2 separate regions of the Homo sapiens genome follow, and region 1 is linked to region 2. The links come from fine-mapping of genetic effects on gene expression. A gene starts in region 2. The other region holds a variant in brackets. All regions are shown on one strand. Distances are from middle to middle. Region 1 overlaps FKBP9 (FKBP prolyl isomerase 9). Region 2 holds the start of FKBP9 (FKBP prolyl isomerase 9).

Region 1 (2,916 bases), 21 kb before region 2:
TTAACCAACAAACCAATCCCTCAGTTTTACCTGCCATTTGTTATATCATGCAAAGGAGTAGGCCCAGACAAGCAAACCAGATGCCGCCAAGCCTGAGCTCCTTCCACTGGCCTTTGGCAAAGCCCACCCTGCATCTCCTTCCCATCCAAGGAATGATGAAATCTGCTGAAAGCCGGCTGCTGAGTCAGCCCCTGGAATGCAAGGTGTGGTCAATCCCTAAATCGCATGCGTGGGAGATAGAATATTAATCTTTTGTGCCTTACTGTATCTTTTCATTTAAGAGAAAAATGAAAGCCTTAAAAGTAACCATGGGGTTTAAATTTTTCTTTTCTTTTTTTTTTTCTTGAGACGGAGTCTCGCTCTGTTGCCCAGGCTGGAGTGTAATAGCTCAATCTTGGCTCACTGCAACCTTCGCCTCCTGGGTTCAAGCGATTCTCCTGCCTCAGCTTCCCGAGTAGCTGGGATTACAGGCACCTGCCACCACGCCTGGCTAAATTTTGTATTTTTAGTAGAGACGGGGTTTCCCCATGCTGGCCAGGCTGGTCTTGAACTCCCGACCTCAGGCGATCCACCCAAATCAGCCTCCCAAAGTGCTGGGATTACAGGCGGCAGCCACTGCGCCCGGCCTGGGGTTTCAATTTTTCTAGCATTAATGTGTACTAAATGAATAATGTTTTCTATAGCAACTTTGCAGAGATATAATTCACATACCATACAGTTCACCCATTTAAAGTTATACTTGGATAGCCGAGCACAGTATTCAAGTATAAAGTATTCAAAAATAACTACTCTAAATAAGCTATTATTTATTTAAAGTAAAGAAATAATATTTCTCATATTAGGCTCACATCTGGTTTTGTTATGTGGCTGATGACAAAAGGATCTGGGAGCCAACGTGAATGAACTTCTTGGGGCCAAGGACAAGACCATTTGAACATCAATAAGAAAACAGTAACTGCCAGGCACAGTGGCTCCCACCCGTAATCCCAGCGCTTTGGGAGGCTGAGGTGGGAGGATCGCTTGAGTCCAGGATTTCCAGGTAAGCCTGGGTAACGTAGCGAGACACTGTCTCTAAAAAAACTTTTTTAACTAGCCAAGCATGGTGGCACACGTCTGTACTCCTAACTATTCGGAAGGCTGAGGCAGGAGGATCACCCAGGAGTTTGAGGTTACAGTGAGCTATGATGGTGTCACTCCAGTCTGGGTGACAGAGTGAGACCCTGTCTCTAAAAATAATAATAACAGTATCTTATATCTCAGTGGGGGGGAGAATTAAGACATATTTATGGCACTGCTTTAAACTTTATTTTTCTTTTAGTAGGGAATTCCACCCCTAATGCTCTGTTTAAGAAACCATCTGCAGATCCCCAGCATGTAAAATATATAAAAGTGGGCCAGGCACAGTGGTTCACACCTGTAATCCCAGCACTTTGGGAGGCCGAGGTGGATGGATGGCTTGACCTCAGCAGTTTGAGACAAGTCTGGCCAACATGGCGAAATGCTGTCTCTACTAAAAATACAAAAATCTGCCAGGCATGGTTGCATACGCCTGTAGTCCAAGCTACCCAGGAGGCTGAGGCAGGAGAATCTCTTGAATCCAGGAGATAGAGGTTGCAGTGAGCCGAGATCGCACCACTGCACTCCAGCCTGGGCAACAGAGTGAGACTCTGTCTCAAAAAAAAAAAAAAAGTGTATATATATATGAGTATATATATATGAGTGTATATATACATATATATATATGGGCATGTATATATATATATGAGTGTATATATATATATGGGCGTGTATATATACATATATATATATAAGTATATATATATAT[ATG/G]GAGATAGAAAGGAGAGAAGGCTGAGCCCCATCACCTCAGGCTCCCTTCTGCTCCTGCTCCGCTCCACAGAGCCAGGAAAAAACGTTGAAAACATATTGGCTATTGTAAGCTGGCTATCACTATCAGTAAACTTCTTAAGAAGCATCATGTTCTCATTTATATCCTTAACTACAAAATCATGTGCTGCACAATGAAGTTTTGGTCAACAACAGACCACATATATGAGAGTGGTCCCATGAGATTATCATATCATGTCTTTACTGTACCTTTTCTATGTTTAGATACACAAATTCTTACCATTGTGTTACAGTAGCTCACAGGATTCAGTACAGATGCTGTGCAGGTTTGCAGCCTAGAGGAAACAGGTTACACCACACAGCCTAAGTGTGCAGCAGGATGTAGCACCTAGGATTGTGTAAGTGCACTCTATGGCATTTGCACAACAATGCAATTGCCTAATGATGCCTTTCTCAGAACATATCCCCATTATGAATCAACACATCATTGTATCCATCTGCTGTTTAAATGTCTACCGGTCTCTATGTTGTGCCAGCATGTCAATATGACTAAACGCACCTGAAATTCAAACATGAGTACCTGAGACATTCCATTTATCAGTCAATATTATGTGTTTTCCTTCACAGTAAAACTACAAACAGGACACTAGTTGTAATTAATGTGTTTTCTAACATTACACTTTGCTTTTGTCCATATGGAGTTAATGCCATAGGTAAAACTCATCATAGAGGTGCAAACGGGGAAATCTGGCAATTCTGACATTGTATGGCTAAATTTCTACCTGGATATCTGCAACTTTTATAGTGTCTAATTCAAGTCTCATTTCACAAATGTTAAAGCCAGAGAGGTTGGTGGCCAAGGCCATGGCAGGTACAACAGGGGCAGAGGGGGTTACTTATGAATGCCAATGACTATAAGTAAGTGGAAATTTCTGCAACTCAATCATCAGACAGCAGACAATCCAGACTAGCACTGTCAAATAGAACTTTCTGAGTGATGGAAATGATCTGGGTCTGTATCTGCACTGTCCACTATGGTGGTCCTCAGCAACGTGAGGCTATTGGGTACCT
Region 2 (2,916 bases):
GCCTGGTGCTGGACGAAGAGAGGCCTGTTAACCCCGAACCTAAACTGGAGGGAAACGGGAGAGCAGTGCTGTGATCCTGAGGCAGAGCTGAGAGAAGGAGTTCTGGGCTTGATATAGGGCCTGGTATAAAGCAGAGTGACGGTCCTGGACTACCTCCTGCCCACGAGAGGTGTCGTGTTGTGTTTTGTTTTGTGATGGGATCTCTCTCTGTCTCCCAGGCTGCAGTGCAATGGCACGATCATAGCTCACAGCAGCCCCAAACTCCTGGGCTCAAGCGATCCTCCCGCCTCGTTCTCTCAAAGTGCTGGGACTACAGGCGTGAGCCACCACGCCCAGCCCCAAGAGAGGTTTTTGTATGGCAGGAAAGGAAGGGCAGTGGTAGTTGCGCACACAGACTCTGGAGTTGGATTAAACAATCTGACTCCATTGTTTAAACACGTTTCTTAGCCGCAGTTGCTTGTTACCTTACTGATAAAATGAGGGTAGTGATAGTACCTACCTCACAAGACTGCTGTACAATTAAATGAGTTCACTACAATATGGAAAGTACTTAGAACTACACCTACACATTGTTAACAGCTCATTGTATGTTTGGGGCTGCTAGCCTCTTCATCATTGTTCTGTGTGAGAAGCACCATCTGACTAGATTCCCAAGGGAGCGGAGGGAAGGAACAGGAAAGGGCGAAGAGAGGCAGGCACGAACATCCACTCTTGGGGGTCCAGTTGTGCAACGTGGCCTCCACTTACACTGATTATTTTACACTGATTTTGCGTGTGTCCATGCGCTGGGAGGAAAGGGAGGACGTGGTCTGCCCCAACCCCGCTGCTCAAGGTCCTCCAAGGGTCCAGTCCCCGGCTGGCAGCCTAGGGCACGTGAGGGCCGGGAGGCTCACCCGCGGCGGAGGGTCTGGGGTCCGGGAGGATCTGGGCAGCGGAAGAAGGGAGGAGCGCGGCTGCACGGGGCGGAGCTAGGGGAGGTCCGGCAGGAGGGAAAGGCCTGTCCGGAGAGAGGGACGCGCATCCGCTGAGGCCGCGCCGGGCGCCAAGGGCGCGGTACCTGGAGTCGAACTTCTGGCCGTCGGGGAACGTCCCCACGTAGTGGTAGCGCACGAAGTCGCCGCTGCGCACGGTGCGCGGGCACTCGTCGGGCACGAAGCGCCGCTCGATCTGCAGCTCCGCGTCGGAGCCCAGGCCCGCCACGGGCGCTGCCTGCCCGGTCACCCAGAGCAGCAGCAGGAGCAGCGGTGGCGGCGGGGGCCTCCAGCCCCGGAACGCCATCGGGGCGGCGAGAAGAGTGGCGCGGACGCAGCGCGGCGCTCGGGCGGCACGGGTCGGCCTGGGCGTTCGGCTGCGTTTGCAAACGTGGACCGGGTCTCCTGGCCCTACCCGGGCTGCAGCCGCCACCCCGTCTCCCCGGCCGCCCGCCCTCCCGGCCGCAGCTCCAGGGGAGGAGCCCAGCCTGGCCGCGCGCCGAGGGCGGGCCTGCTGCGCCCTGCCCCGCCCGGCATTGGGAATGTGCGTGCCGCAGCGGGGAGGGGGGCTGGGAACTCCAGTGGGGACCAAGTCTGGGCCTAGAGAGGGCGTGTCCCCGAGCGAGACACTGTGATCTCCGGACAAGGCTTTGGCCCAAAGTCGGAAGAGAAAAGCGCGTACTGCCCAAGCCCACCCGCTGGTCTCCGCCCGTCCCTGGAGACACCGGGTTTGGTGCCGTGAGGGGCTCCTACGTGGCCGTGGATCCAATTTTCCCTTGCTGCTTTGGAGAGGGAGGGAAAATTAGATTTTAATTTTTTAAGCTTAGTTACAAGGGTATGGTCTACCTTGAAAGAGACCGAAACCATCCTTCAGGACTTTTTTTTTTTTTTTTTAATACTGCTTAAAGGAAAAGGAAGGCCGGGCGCCGTGGCTCACGCCTGTAATCCCAACGCTTTGGGAGGCCAAGGCAGGCGGATCACGAGGTCAGGAGATGGAGACCATCCTGGCCAACATGATGAAACCCCGTCTCTACTAAAAATACAAAAAAATTAGCCAGGCTTGGTGGCGCGTGCCTGTAGTCCCAGCTACTCGGGAGGCTGAGGTAGGAGAATCGCTGGAACCCGGGAGGCGGAGGTTGCAGCGAGCCGAGATCGCGCCACTGCACACCAGCCCTGGCGACAGTACGAGACACTGTCTCCAAAAAAAGAAAAGGGAGGCATGTATTGCGAGAGGCTCCCGTGACACTTGTCTAGGCAAAAGTTTTAAGGCACCGTGAGGGTCCTCCAAGCCATCAGCGGCCGCACTGTGAGCTGATACTTGCAGACATCCTACAAGCTCCCATATACGAGCCTATGCCAGGGAGGACTTCATCATAGAGACCCAGAAGCCACAGGAATCCATTAGAGTAATCAGATGCACTTGGAATTGGAATTGGGTGTTATAATTTATTAAAATTTTGGAATAATGAAAGCAAATCACCAACTCTTTCTCAACTCGTTTTGGAAGCAAACACAATTCTGATACCAAAACCTGGCAAAGAGAGCAACAAAAAAGAAAAATAAAACTGAAAAAACAGGGCACGATCTAATTTATAAATATAAATGCAAAAATACTGAATAAAACGTAATAAAATCGGATTCAACCGCATATTAGGCCAGGCGCAGTGGCTCACACCTGTAACCCTAGCACTTTGGGAGGCCGAGGTGGTTGGATCACCTGAAGTCAGGAGTTCAAGACCAGCCTGTCCAACATGGTGAAACCCTGGCTCTACTAAAAATACAAAAATTAGCAGGGTGTGGTGGCACGGCCTGTAGTCCCAGCTACTTGGGAGGCTGAGGCAGAAAAATTGCTGGAACCTGGGAGTCGAAGGTTGCAATGAGCCGAGATTGTGCCACTAAATTGCACCACTGCACTCCAGCCCAGGCGACAGAGTGAGACTCTGCC

What was found. PIP is the estimated chance that this variant, and not a neighbour inherited with it, causes the effect.
Region 1: its variant is fine-mapped to the expression of FKBP9 in whole blood (INTERVAL, PIP above 0.99).

What each region holds. Positions count from the first base shown.
Region 1 is chr7:32,976,698-32,979,613 of GRCh38, reverse strand. All of the region lies in intron 4 of FKBP9 (FKBP prolyl isomerase 9), which reads right to left. Among named protein-coding and RNA genes, the nearest start is that of FKBP9, 21 kb to the right of the region's middle. RefSeq lists an enhancer at 1-736. The variant ATG/G (reference allele first, on the strand shown) is at 1,826.
Region 2 is chr7:32,955,936-32,958,851 of GRCh38, reverse strand. It overlaps FKBP9 (FKBP prolyl isomerase 9), which reads right to left and starts at 1,412. Exons shown (of 10, transcript NM_007270.5): 1 at 1,058-1,412. The coding sequence starts at 1,278. RefSeq lists a silencer at 1,156-1,625 and enhancers at 1,716-1,765, 1,615-2,565.